2 linked regions of the Homo sapiens genome follow. The protein of the gene in region 1 purifies or fractionates together with the protein of each later gene. This does not show direct contact. Each region holds a gene or a part of one and is shown in the gene's direction. Other genes may lie near its edges. The genes, in order: CDC123 and LBR.

Region 1 (7,305 bases):
ATTAAATAATTATTAATTACAGTAATAAGACCCATTTGTGATTTAGGCCAAGGGTAGAATTGATCGACTAAAATATTGAGAAAATAGTGAGAGAGTTATTTTGGTGATTCATTGTGACAAACCTCAATAATAATTATATCAAAGTAAGCATTACCTCATGGTACTTAAGGTAGACAACTTTAGAATTATATTATTTTATTTTACTATATTTTATTTTATTTTATTTTTTAGATGGAGTTTTGCTCTGTCGCCCAGGCTGGAGTGCAGTGTGGCGCAATCTCGGCTCACTGCAACCTCCGCTTCCTGGGTTCAAGCGATTCTCCTGCCTCAGCCTCCTTAGTAGCTGGGGCTACAGGTGCCTGCCACCACACCTGGCTAATTTTTTGTGTTTTTAGTAGAGGAGGTTTCACATGTTGGAGCGCAATGGCGCGATCTGGGCTCTCTACAACCTCTGCCTCCTGAGTAGCTGGGATTACAGGCACCCGCCACCATGCCTGGCTCATTTTTTTGTACTTTTAGTAGAGACGGGGTTTTACCATGTTGGCCAGGCTGATCTTGAACTCCTGACCTCAGGTGATCGCCCGCCTCAGTCTCCGAAAGTGCTGGGGTTATAGGCGTGAGCCTCCGCACCTGGCTGGAATTACTTTATTATTTGATATTCCTCAAGGGGTGCAGAACATATGAATGAACGTATGGCACTGTGGTGAAAAGTTGTGACTACATTCTTGGTGGTGTGCTTGTATGTCAGAACTCTCAAAATGGCAGTTATGTGACAAGGATGCATTTTGTCATAGAATTTTAGCACAATTTTCCTGTGGTTATCAGAATAATAGATCACAACTCTATTCCCTACATCTCATGTGAAGAATTTTTTTTTTTTTTTTTTTTGAGATGGAGTTTTGCTCTTGTTTCCCAGGCTGAAGTGCAATGGCGTGATCTTGGCTCTCTGCAACCTCCACCTCCCGGGTTCAAGTGATTCTCCTGCCTCAGCCTTCTGAGTAGCTGACAGGCATGTGCCATCATGCCCGGCCAAGAATGTCATATGCCTCTTTTTTTAAAACCATTTGATAATGGCAATCATTAAGATACAGTGTTGACCTAAAATTGCCTAGTAGACCTTACCACATAGGTGTGTTATATTAAATATTTTTTCTTTTGTTTACAGCTCGTTCTCCGAAAATGGTGTGAATTGATTCCTGGGGCTGAGTTTCGATGTTTTGTCAAGGAAAACAAGCTTATTGGTGAGTTTTTGTTTGTTTGTTTGTTTTATCCTTCAAAGTCATCTTTAAAAGAAAACAAGCTTTTGTTGGAAGTAAATTTCCAGTAATTAGGACAGGGATGTCAATCTGTTTTCATCTCAGATGCCACCTCTAACCAGTTGATACTGACTCTCTGGAATGCTGTGTTGACAGGAATCCTGAGCCCAGAGTCACTTGCCGCAGGAAACGGTATTGTCAGATAATCATGGCTGTCTGGATTCCAGAGATAAAAATGGTGGTTGTCACTGTTCCTGATTTAGGAATCAGGAACTCTGTGTATGGAATTTTCCTAAGCAGTACTTAGCAATAGTCTGCTTATTTCAAGCGTCATAAAAAGCCAAGTTTTGGAACCTTTATTTCTATTATTGGGGCACTGTTTATTATTCTAGCAAGAGAAAATATGTGGACAAGTAAGTGTATTCTTCTAAGTCACCCATTTTCTTTCCTCTCAGGTTACTGTTCTGTTTGCTATGATTGATTTAACTTAAATATTGAAGATAATTTGTTCTTTATTTTGTTAATGCATATTTTCCATGAAGTAAAATTTATCTTCAACCTAGAAAAGTGTAATTTGAATACAATCACATCAGCACTATTGATGCATTGAATGTGATGTTGAAATGTATGAACCCACCTGAAAGAAAGTTGGGGTGTTCACATTTCTCATATTGCTCGATATTCTTGAAGAAGCTGCAGTGTAAGTACTCTAAAGCGGGGGGTCCTGTTGGCACAAGATTCAGGAATAGGAAGCCCGTATTTCAGAGCAGAGAACTTTTCCCTAGGACTGGAGCAAATTCAGGGAGTTTGTGTAATAGTCCAGTTAGTGTGTTTGGAATCTTGTCAGCAAGTCACTCTGAAAAAAGGAATGTTTACTTTTCCATGGCTTGAACGAGAGCAGGCTGTGAAGGCCAAGTAGCATGTATGAACAAGAAAAATAGACTGCTTCTATGCAATACAGTATGAATATGGCAGGCATCTCTTGAAGAATATTTGATATTTTCCCAAAGAAAGTGGAAGAGAATACCAATTTGCAGAGACTCTTTGGAAGAAAGCAAAGCAGCAGCAGTTGATTATGTGTGCAGGTTTAGAATTGCTGCTTTAATTTTTTACATAACAAGACTTTTTGTGACTTTGAATTCCTTCCATTTTACTAAATGAAAATAACTGTTTCCATGGGCAAGGTGCTGTGGCTCACACCTGTAATCCCAACAGTTTGAGAGGCCAAGGCTGGAGGATTGCTTGAGGCCAGGAGTTCAAGACCAGCCTGCGCAATGTACTGAGACCCCGTCTCTACAAAAAATAAAACGATGAGCCAGGCATGGTGGCACATGCCTGTAGTCCCGGCTACTCGGGAGACTGAGGTGGGAGGGTCACTTGAGCTCAGAAAGTGGAGGTTGTAATAAGCTATGATTGTGCCACTGTACCCCAGCCTGGGCAACAGAATGAGACACTGTCTCTAAAAAAAAAAAAAGGCCAGGTGCGGTGGCTTACACCTGTAATCCCAGCATTTTGGGAGGCTGAGGTGGGTGGATCATGAGATCAGTTCAAGACCAGCCTGGCCAAGATGGTGAAACCCCATCTCTGCTAAAAATACAAAAAAAAATTTGCTGGGTGTGGTGGCAGGCGCCCGTAATCCTTGCTACTTGGGAGGCTGAGGCAGGAGAATCGCTTCTCGGGCAGCAGAGGTTGCAGTGAGCCGAGATCGTGCCACTGCACTCCAGCCTGGGCAATAGAGTGAGACTCCGTCTCAAAACAAAACAAAACAAAACAAAACAAAACAAAAAGTAAATTCTTCCAGAAGTAAGAAGACATGGCAATGTAGGACTTCAGGATTCACCTGTTCATATGAATCCTTACAGCTGGGTCGTGTGTAATGCCGTACCCATCAGGGTGATCTTCTAATCTACTTTAATGGTTCTTTCCACAAAATGTTTAAATCACGTATTGATGTTTTTGAAAAGAATATTGTATAATAACAGGATGTAAAATATTTTCTTGTCAGGTATTTCTCAAAGAGACTACACACAATACTATGATCATATTTCTAAACAAAAGGAAGAAATTCGCAGATGCATACAAGACTTTTTCAAGAAACACATACAGTACAAATTCTTAGATGAAGACTGTGAGTATTTTTTTATTGATCCAGTAAAATGAAATGAAATATACATTGTTACTGGACCTTATTTACTATGGTGTGTATCCTAATAACTAGATTTGAAATACTGTATTGTAAGCATTTTACTATATTATTATTTGTTATTTTTGATAGTTTGTATGTTAATTTCTTTTTATTATTATTATTTTTATTTGGAGACAGTCTTACTCTGTCAGCCAGGCTGGAGTGCAGTGGTGCGATCGCGGCTCGTGCAGCTTCCACCTCCCGGGTTCAGGTGATTCTCCTGCCTCAGCCTCCCAAGTAGCTGGGGCTACAGGTGCACGTCACCACACCCGGCTAATTTTTTGTATGTTTAGTAGAGATGGAGTTTCGCCATGTTGGCCAGGCTGGTCTTGAACTCCTGGCCTAAGTGATCCGCCCACTTCAGCCTCACAGTGTGCTGGGATTACAGATGTGAGCCACCGCACCAGCCATGTTAATTTCATCTTATTTAACTAAAATCTATTTTTACTGCTAAGTCAGTTCCCTGTCTTGTTTTAGATGTTTGATTGTGTATTTCAAAGGGGCTATCTACAGAGAACAAAGTCTATCTACCTTTCTAGCTTCTTTGAATGATCAAAGACAGCACCAGTTACAAAGTAAACATTTGTGGGTTGTTTTTAGGAATTGAAAGTATATTGTGTAAGAGTTTTCATACATCTGAAAATTATATCTGCTATGATTTACAATTTCTCTACTTGCCAAGACTGGGCTCTGTGGCAGATTTGACTTAAAATAAGATGAATCATGCTTCAAGGCTCATTAGATTTTATGCTTTCTATTATAAGCTTTACTCATTGCATTCTACCAGATCAGTGATTGATGCCCGTTTCACTAGTACTTTGCTCAGTGACTCCCATCTTTCCCATAGAACCAGTCTATAACGGGGAACTGGTTGAGATGATATTGGCGTTTGGTTTGAATTTTTAAATATAGGGGCTTATGGTTGGGGAACAGAGAACAGTAAAGCAAAGTTATATAAATAAAACATTGCAGGATGCCTTTTTATGTTTGAAGTTTTGAGGTTTAGAAGCATGAAGTCCTCAGGGTCATTTATATTCTGCTGTCTTTGATTAAAATGTACTTTAATTTTCAAAAGGAGATTTACATTGTGAAATATTAGTTCATTAATAACTGACTTTTTTTCTCCTTTACAGTTGTGTTCGATATATACAGAGACAGTAGGGTAAGTAAAAACTCTTTCTGATATGCTTTAATATAAGAGCTGGTTTTATAAGCAGGCAGAGCATGCCTTTGTTATGTGTGTGAAGGATCCATGCTCAAAAAATATTTTGTCTGGGTGCAGCAGCTCATGCCTGTATTCCCAGCACTTTGGGAGGCTTAGGCAGGGAGATCATTTGAGCTCAGGAGTTCGAGACTAGCCTGGGCAACATAGTGAGCCCTCATCTCTACTAAAAATTAAAAAAAAATTAGCCCAGGCCAGGCACAGTGGCTCACACCTGTAACCCCAGCACTTTGGGAGGCCGAGGTGGGAGGATCACTTGAGGTCAGGAGTTCAAGATCAGCCTCGGCAACATGGTGAAACTCCGTCTCTACTAAAAATACAAAAAAATGAGCCAGGCATGGTGGTGGGTGCCTGAAATCCCAGCTACTCAGGAGGCAGAGATTGCAGTGAGCGGAGATCACGCCATTGTGCTGCAGCCTGGGCAACAGAGCGAGACTCTGCCTCAAAAGAGAAAAAAAAAATATCCGGGCCTGGTGGTGTTTGCCTGTAGTCCCAGTTATGCAAGAGGCTGAGCTGGGAGGATCACTTGAGCCCGGGAATGCAAGGCTGCAGTGAGCCTTGATTGCGCCACTGCTCTCCAGCCAGGGTGACAGAGTGAGACCCCATCCCCTCCTCAAATTTTTTTTTTTTTCTCACATCAACTAAGGTGATTGAAATTCACCATGGTCAAAAATCTCCCCTTAAAATATACCTAACATTAGAGGACTTAATAGCTGAAATCATTGTGTACCATGGTTTAGGGATTCTTTATTGAACAGGTAGGTAAATGAGCACTTACGTCCTATGTCTCATTTGTGTCAGAGGTCAGGGCCTGCTTAAAATAGTTCAGTTTGCACACTTAAATTTGGCCAGGAGTTTGTCACTTGATATTTATATAATTATTTTGGCCGGGTGCAGTGGCTCACGCCCGTAATCCCAGCACTTTGGGAGGCTGAGGCGGGCAGATCACCTGAGGTCGGGAGTTCGAAACCCACCTGACCAACATGGAGAAACCCTGTCTCTACTAAAAATACAAAATTAGCCGGGCATGGTGGCGCATGCCACCTAGCTACGTGGGAAGCTGAGGCACAGGAGAATCACTTGAACCAGGAGGTGGAGGTTGCAGTGAGTTGAGATTGTGCTATTGCATTCCAGCCTGGGCAACAAGAGCGAAACTCTGTTTTTTAAAAAAAAAAAAAAGGGGCCGGGCGCGGTGGCTCACACCTGTAATCCCAGCACTTTGGGAGGCCGAGACGGGCAGATCACGAGGTCAGGAGATCGAGACCATCCTGGCTAAAACGGTGAAACCCTGTCTCTACTAAAAATACAAAAAATTAGCCGGGTGTGTTGGCGGGCACTTGTAGTCCCAGCTACTCTGGAGGCTGAGGCGGGAGAATGGCGTGAACCCGGGAGGCGGAGCTTGCAGTGAGCCGAGATCGCGCCACTGCACTCCAGCCTGGGCTACAGAGCGAGACTCCGTCTCAAAAAAAAAAAAAAAAAAATTATTATTATTATTTTTAGTCAACTAAAAGTGACTCAAAGTTTGAGTTACTTTTATCTTTAGACAGAAGAGGATTAGTTTATTTTTTAAATCTTAAAAGTGATGAAAACTTCTGTAAGGAAAAAGTTAAAGTGACTTACTAGTAAAGTTACTTACTGCTGACTTAATGAAGAATTACTAGAGCAGAGATTTCACTGTCCAAGACATGTCATCTTTATTAAGAAGTTTAGGTCACTAAATGCTGTTTGGTGCTGAGTGCTCTTTGACATTGTGAAGAAGCTAGCAGATGCGTTTTCCCGTGTCACCTACACACAAGCAGAATATTTCTCATTCTCTCTCCGTGCTTAGATCAGCCTCATTGTAAGTGAGACAGTCATTTGAATCTGAATCACCTTTGGACATCTTCGAATCATCTTTGGACAAAAAGATATGGCCCATATGATCATGTCCCAGAATAACTGTTAACTGTTCATTTAACTCTTACGTCAAAAGACATCACTATATTTTCACCTCTTTGTCTTCAAAGATGATGGTGTCTGTTAAGAGTTACTAGAAAGAGGGGCTTTAGGCCATTGTTGTGGCTCACGCCTGTATTTTCAGCATTTTGGGAGGCTGAGGTGGGAGGATGGCTTGAGCCCAGGAGTTTGAGATCAGCCTGGGCTTAACATAATGAGACCTCGTCTCTACATAAAAATTAGCCAGGTGTGGTGGTTTGTGCCTGTAGCCCCAGCTACTCCCGGGAGCTGAGTTGGGAGGATCGCTTGAGACTGGGAGGTTGAGGCTGCAGTGAGCCATGATCATACATGTCATGCCTAGCAGTGAACACCAGGTTGTGTCTGGTCTTCTGCAGTCTGCCATGGTGAATAATCCCGTACGTGTGTCATTTCACACGCTGCAGGTGAATCTACAGGGTGAATTCCTAGAAGCGGGATTGCTGGCTCAAAAGTGAAATGTATTTTAATGTTGCAGTTTACCCTCGGTAGAGGTTACACCTGACCAGATCCCCCCAGGAATGCATCACAGTACCTGCAGGCTTCCTCAGAGCTTGCCTTTACAATATAGGGTTACACTCTTCAGGGTTTTTGGGGTTTCGTAGAGAAATGATGTTTCAGTATAATTTCTACTTCTATTTTTCTTAGTAAGTGAGGATGAAGTTTATCTT
Region 2 (7,305 bases), on another chromosome or scaffold:
GATTCTTAAATAAATAAACCAGATTGAAATTTGAGCCTCGAATGTTCATGAATTGTTTGCAGGTGTGTTTCTCATCATGTTTGGCCTGCCTGTGTTCCTCTTCCTGTTGCTGTTGATGTGTAAACAGAAAGATCCCAGTCTTCTGAATTTCCCTCCTCCTTTGCCAGCTTTGTATGAGTTATGGGAAACCAGAGTATTTGGGGTCTACCTCCTGTGGTTTTTGATTCAAGTCCTGTTCTACCTACTGCCAATTGGAAAGGTACGTTTATGGTAATTCTGTTTTGTTTTAATAAGATGAGGTCTCACTATATTGTCCAGGCGGGTCTCCAATTTCTGGGATCAAGTGATCCTCTTGCCGCAGCCTCCTGAGTCGCTGGGACCACAGGCCTGTGCCATGCTGCCCAGCCTTAGAGTAGTTTAAAGGTTAAAGGCTGTTGTTGGTCATAATTCCCAAAACTTAGTTCATGAAGCCATTTCTCTTGTGCTGTCTGTATAACACTTGCTTATTAGGAGGAACTTAAAAAAAAATCTGATTGAGATTTCTTGTGTAACTTTTCAAACCAAATAGAAAAGAATAGGCTATTTTGCAAAGTAGCCGACTCTCAGTGGAGGTTGCTATGGAAAAAAAATTCACTCTTAGTATGTGTCATTTCAGATGCAGCATTTTAAATGATTAATTGATAGGCTACTGGGCTCGATGGACTTTAGTCTACATCTTTTACTTTAAAAAAGTATGAAAAGTTTCTAATTTTCATCTCTTTCAGAAGCTTGTTGTCAAGAACATTTTACGTTGTTTTCAGATTCCTGCAATATCTTTAAAATTTGTCTCTCCATTGCTAAGTGTAGTTTTTTCTTCTTTCAGTAGAATCCTTTACTTGGATATATTTAAAGAAACATGAGATTCCCTAAGTAATAAATAATTTATTTAAAGATCTTATTCTTAGGGCTTTGCAAGTTTGCCAACTGTCTGTAAACCAAAGGATCGGTTTTACTGGTGAATGCCAGTGATAGGAGGGTAGAGCTGCAGGCTTAATACTGTGGAGTGAGACCATAACTTTAGTGGCTCTAGCAAGGATTTTTGTGATAAAGACCTTCAGTCATTTCTACAGTAAGCCTCTACAGTTAAATTCAGATTCATTTAGGGTAAGGTGATTTCAGAGTATCAAGGAAAGCAGTTTTGGTGTTTAAAGTCATATATGTATATACTCATAGACTAAAGTGACTAAAAGCATATATATTAAAATATATATTAATATTATGCAGTCATCCCTTGATATCCTTGGGGAGTGGTTCCAGGACCTCCTGTACATACCAAAATCTGAGGATGCTGAAGGCCCTGATAAGAAATAGTATAGTATTTGCATATAACCTGTGTGCATCTTCCTTGTATACTTTGTTGCCTTTAGGTTGCTTATAATACCTAATACAACGTAAGTGCCATGTAAATAGTTATCATACTGTATTAGGGAATAAGGACAAGAAAAAGAAGTCTGTACATATTCAGCTCAGATGCAATTTTTTCCGAAATATTTTGGATCTGGTTGGTTGAATCCATGGATGTGGATCCCGTCGATACGGAGGGCTGACTGTATATTTGGATCTATATATTCACAGATTAAAGCCTAACACAGCATTTACTAGACTCCTTTAATAGATAAGGATCATCTGAAATTAGCATGTGGCATTTTACTAATCCTGTGATCTCAAACAGCTTTTACGTTTCTCTTGGGAGAGGAGGAATGCTAGCTAATGAAATCTGTAGCTAATGATAAGATAAAGTAGTTTAGCCCAGAGCAAATGATACTATATTTATATTTTACAGTTTGAAATGAATTGCTACATTTCTGAATAGTTATTTTGTGGGGTAAAACGTGGCTGCATTGAGCAAGTGGACTTTTTACTGAGCCAGTTCTATTGGGTACCATGCCTGTGGGTATCTCTGTGCTGAATGCTGTGAGTGATGCCGAATGAAGAGAGGAGATGGTTCTGATGCATGATGCGTGCTCACAGTCTCTCTCTCTCTCTCTCTTTTTTTTTTTTTTTCTTGAGACAGGGTCTTGCTCTGTTGCCCAGGCTGGAGTGCAGTGGTGCAATCTGCAACCTCCTCCTGGGCTGAAGTCATCTTCCCACTTCAGCCTCCCGAGTAGCTGGGACCACAGGCGCGTGCCACCAGGCTTGGCTAGTTTTTGTATTTTGTATTTTTGTAGAGAGGGGATTTCACCATGTTGCCCAGGCTGGTCTCCAACTCCTGGACTCAAGTGATCCTCCCACCTTGACCTCTCAAAGTGCTGGGATTACAGGCATGAGTCACCACACCTGGTTTCTCACAGTCTCTTATTGCAGATAAAAGAATCACATGAAATGGTTAAATAACTGGATGGGCAATATATATATAATATATAGCAGAGCAAGTAAGCATATGAGTATGCGTCATCAAATAGCACTTGGGTCATAGTAGAGTGGATAAACAGGGTAGAGCCCAATTGAAAAGGACCCCACAAATGGAAGACAATGGAATCATACTGTTACTTTGTAAGAGTATGGTAGCCATTGGTAGATGTTTGAGCTAGGGATCCACTAGATATAAAGGTATTTAAGCACATTTAGTCTTGAGGTGGTGGTACACAGGAGTGTGGCAGGGAGCGTGGCTGTTGCAGTTGCTTGGTCCTACACTAGGAAGTCATTACTGAATTTGTATTTAAGATAAATTCCTGAAGGTGGAATTGCGTCATTAAAGGGCTTGCCACTAGGGTTTTTGAAACATATTACTAAATTTCCATGTTACAAGATATCTTCCTTCTTGGGCGTGTTGAAAATTAAGTGATACTAGAATATATATATGTGTGTGTGTATATATGTATATATGATGGTGATGTGCTTAGTAAATTTGTAAATTTTTTTTCTTTTAAGGTTGTAGAAGGAACGCCTCTTATTGATGGAAGAAGACTCAAGTATAGATTAAATGGTGATTTTCTTTTTTTAAGACTCAAATTGATGATTTGATAGCTTAAACTTCTAAGTGTTAAACTCTTTGTTAAAGCTGATTAGACCAGAGTAGTAAGTGATAAATTATTTCTTAGTAGTTGGAAGAGCAACTGTTTATACCTGTAGCCAACTTGTATAAATTATGCCATTAAAGTAACATAGCCTCTTAGTCACTCTTGTCCACTCTCCAGTTTTATTTTCTTAATAGTGCTCATCACTGTTAGAAATCATTGCACTTGTCTAGGATTTTATCACCTGAGGTGTTACACGGATGTGGGCATCCAGGCCACTCCTGCTGCGTGAGCTGCTCTTGTCCTTGCTCATGTCCTCTGGGTTGTCCCTTGAATATTCGTCACACACACTTCCTGGGCCTTTGCCTGGAGAACTTACCCCCAAACGTCTGACACCTGCATCTTCACCTCCATCTGTCTTCTGCTGAGAGAAGCCTTCAGGTCCCTTTCTCTCCCCTGCTCTGTTTTGTTTTTCTGTCTGACATTTGTGCCTCCACACATCAGTGTATTTGTCTCTTCATTAGGGTCTCTCCACTAGAATGTGGCTTCATGGGCTAGGACTTGGCTATGTTCATTGTGACACTCTTGGTGCTAGGAAGATGGGCATGTAGTGGGTGCTCATTCATATGTGAGTGCTGGATGGATGAGTTGTGAGCTTGCTGGGCAGCTCAATAAATGGATAGACCTTGCTCCCTGTGGGTCCGGCATCTCGCACTGTAAGAGCATGTGCTGAGTGCTTCAGTCCAGCTTTGTCATTTGAAGACTTTGGCAAAGTACAGATCTATTTTGTAGTCATCCTTGAATGATTTTCCATTTGACAAGACGGAGTAGAGTGTTTTCCTTTTCTTGAGAATTACATTATGTATTGTAATGGTTGAACTTTTTATCCTTTCAATTCTTCATTTTTTAACTTTGGATACTTTGTTTAGAGACTTACGCAGCATCTACTCTGTCTGCAGTCACTCCACTGGGTTCTAAAGGGGAAGCCAAAGATAGTTTAGACACCTTCTGCCTTTTAGTGCCAGTCATGTGATAAAACGTCTCCCCCAGCTCCAGAGTCTGACCCCTGGTGGGTGCTTAATACTTATCATTGGTATTGTTAGACTTTTTGTTGCTTTTACCAAATTCTTTGCTGATGGAGCAAGTTTTAGAACCTTTGGCACCCTCCCTCCCTCTGGTGGTTCACTTACCACACCAGGGAAGGTGAGTCTGGGGTGAGGTGGGTTGTTGACTTTGCCGCCAGGTCCTTTGATTTCAGTGTTTTGTGTGTTTCTCTGTAGGTACCAATTCTTTTCTAAGTAGTCTTGTGTTATATTTTCACTTCCCTCTGAGGGGTGTGGTACATTCAGAGACTGAGCACAGCACTTGGACATGGAGCTCTTGGAGCCAGTGGGGGAGTGGCTGGCCAAGTTGCTTGATCCTTTTTAAAAATTTCCTCATCTAATTACTCTGGTTCAAGTATTGAGATTTCTTTTCGAGATTTTACGATTATTAACTAAGGAGGTTCCTAAGACATTTTGGATGATTATTTTTAATCCACATAGGCTAGAGAGCAAAAGACTGCTTTATCTAACCATTCTTTTTTAAAATTACATTTTATGAAAGGTAAATGAATATTTTCAAAAGTCAGAATTTAGAAGTTATTGTTTGGAGTATTTGTGGAAAATGTGGATTCAGATAATTTGAGACAACTATTTTACTTTACAAAAGGTTTGGTTTTAGAATTCTCATATAAATAACAGCTACCTCTTTTTTGCTTTTGACCGTTTATCCAAATGGATTTGATGACTTTTTAGGATCACAGCTCTTTGAGGCACTCAGCTCCTTTGAAAGCAAAACTATTTCTTTAGCCAAAAGAAAAAAATTGGATCTTCCAGTGAGCCTTTCTGTGTGGCTGCAGGACTAGCCCGGAACGAGAGTTCTGTGGAGCGTCACAGGGCGGGTGCTTTTTAACTTGGCATTGCACGTGAATGTCCCCGCCTGCTGTCCCTACCCCCCAGGTACTCGCAGTCCCCTGCCTAGCCTCGGGCATTTGTGTTGTGGCATCTTTTCTGCGGGTGGCATGTTAAGATCTCTGTTCTGGATGATAGAGTTTTACTAGAATCTTTTGAAACCATTATTGGCAACTTGGTTAAGTATAAATATTTATAATTTTGTAACTACCAACCTGGCTCGGTGCCTGACCCCTGGTAGGTGCATAATACCCTCCCCTTAGGTAATGGCATTAGACTTTAAAATATGTGTTTGGCCCAGCTCTGTTAATAATTAGCCATTTGACTTTGTGCCTGAGAGTTTGGATTGTGGGAATTTTCAGGTTGCACTTCTTGTCTGTTTTCCCTTAATTAAAAGCAAATAATGACCATTTGAACTGAAAAAGAATCAATATGTTAAACTATTTGGAAAGTTCTACAAGAGATAATGGTATGTATATTGAAAATTATACCTCAGACATTGCTTATTTGCATATTTGTGTGTATTTAGTCTGAATAATGAAATTAAGACTTTAAAAATGAACATTGCATTGTTTCATAGTGGCGTAAGTTTCATGTGAGCCTTGGGTTAATATTAATTTTCCACTTCCTTTTTTTTTTTTTTTTAAAGGATTCTATGCTTTTATCCTGACATCTGCAGTCATCGGAACATCTCTCTTCCAGGGCGTAGAGTTTCATTACGTGTACAGTCATTTTCTTCAGTTTGCACTTGCGGCCACTGTTTTTTGTGTGGTCTTGAGTGTGTATCTCTACATGCGCTCTTTGAAAGCGCCCCGGAATGACCTGTCGCCTGCCAGCTCTGGTGAGCAGTGATGAATTGCATGTTGGATGAATGCGTCCCAGAGCCCTCCAGCAGCCATTTCCAGATTTGAATAGATTGCTTTTTTTCTAACTTCATTTTTGGGAAATGAAGAGAAGTAAGAAAAAATGAAAAGATGAAGAAAAACGTTAAAGAGATATGAATTTAAAGGAAGAAAATATTTTTGTTTTACCTTCATACTTTCTTACTCATTTCTTTTTTTTGCAGTTGCTTGATGACAGTAAGACGTTTAGTAAACTTACAGGCATTTTGACTTATGACAAATATTATTTCTTTGTCCAAAATAGTAAACACTCTTTAAAAAACAAAAAACAACAGAGGTTACTGGCCGGGTGAGGTGGCTCATGCCTGTAATCCCAGCACTTCGGGAGGCCAAGGCGGGTGGATCACCTGAGGTCAGGAGTTTGAGACCAGCCTGGCCAATATGGTGAAACCCCATCTCTACTAAAAATACAAAAATCAGCTGGGCGTGGTGGTGCACACCTATAATCCCATCTACTCGGGAGGCTGAGGCAAGAGAATCGCTTGAGCGTGGGAGGCGGAGGTTGCAGTGAGCCGAGACTGTGCCACTGCACTGTAGCCTGGGCCACAGAGCGAGGCTCCATCTCAAAACAAAACAAACAAAAAACAAGAGAAACGAGAGGTTACAAATTGGTTGATGCTGACCTGAAGTATTTCAATATAAAAAAATGTCGCCTATCTAAAAAAAATGGAGTGTAAAGTCCTTTGGGGGGGCCCCCATGATTTTGGTTAACTTTTTTAAGAAACCTGGGCCCCCGGCTCCCCCAAAGGCTGGAGCAACTGCCTTTTCAGTCGGGCAGGCATCTCCTGGTTCCGCTCGTCTGTGCCGTCCTGTCTGCCTCTCACCACCAGAGCCCTGCTCAGGGTCTTGCAGGCAGTGGAATTGTGAGCCTGGATAGTGGGCGGCAGTGCCGTTGTAAAGCCTCCTGACTGGGTTTGGAATGCTGTTTGGGTAAACACTTTTCCTTTCTCAGGAAATGCTGTCTATGATTTCTTCATTGGCCGTGAATTAAACCCTCGAATTGGTACTTTTGATCTCAAATACTTTTGTGAATTGCGCCCCGGATTGATTGGATGGGTATGTCTGGTTTTTTTTCTTCTAAATTTCAATTCAATAGGTCTAATTAACTGCTAGAAAGAAATGTAGACCATTCAAAAATAAGCAGTGGGTGGTATATTTTTAGGGATAATTATGGCTTTCCATAAATCTATCAAAATACTTTCTTGTAAGTATTTTCCAGAGGTTTAAGATGCCCTGTTACAGGTTATGACAAATTAAATAACTTTTCTTTGCTTTATTTTTATTATATCAGTTTATATTTATGTAGGAAAGTGATAGTGTGGATGAATTAATGTAAGAAAAAATGCATTTTCCTCCTTTTTAAATTTTACCTAGTTTTAGGCTTGGAGTTGCAGATAGAGAGCAAAGAGTTCCCTTCCACCCTTCATTCTGTTTCTCACAACATTAACCTTGGAG

What was found.
Region 2: the proteins of CDC123 (region 1) and LBR purify together in Homo sapiens (affinity purification with mass spectrometry; 2 studies listed by BioGRID and IntAct, with this or other methods). This does not show direct contact.

The regions. Positions count from the first base shown.
Region 1 is NC_000010.11:12,233,883-12,241,187, forward strand, and holds part of CDC123 (translation initiation factor eIF2 assembly protein), read left to right. Parts: intron 1-1,165; coding exon 1,166-1,241; intron 1,242-3,261; coding exon 3,262-3,384; intron 3,385-4,574; coding exon 4,575-4,603; intron 4,604-7,305. UniProt on the Homo sapiens protein: ATP-dependent protein-folding chaperone for the eIF2 complex. Binds to the gamma subunit of the eIF2 complex which allows the subunit to assemble with the alpha and beta subunits.
Region 2 is NC_000001.11:225,410,938-225,418,242, reverse strand, and holds part of LBR (delta(14)-sterol reductase LBR), read left to right. Parts: intron 1-62; coding exon 63-259; intron 260-2,910; coding exon 2,911-2,965; intron 2,966-5,597; coding exon 5,598-5,789; intron 5,790-6,802; coding exon 6,803-6,906; intron 6,907-7,305. UniProt on the Homo sapiens protein: Catalyzes the reduction of the C14-unsaturated bond of lanosterol, as part of the metabolic pathway leading to cholesterol biosynthesis.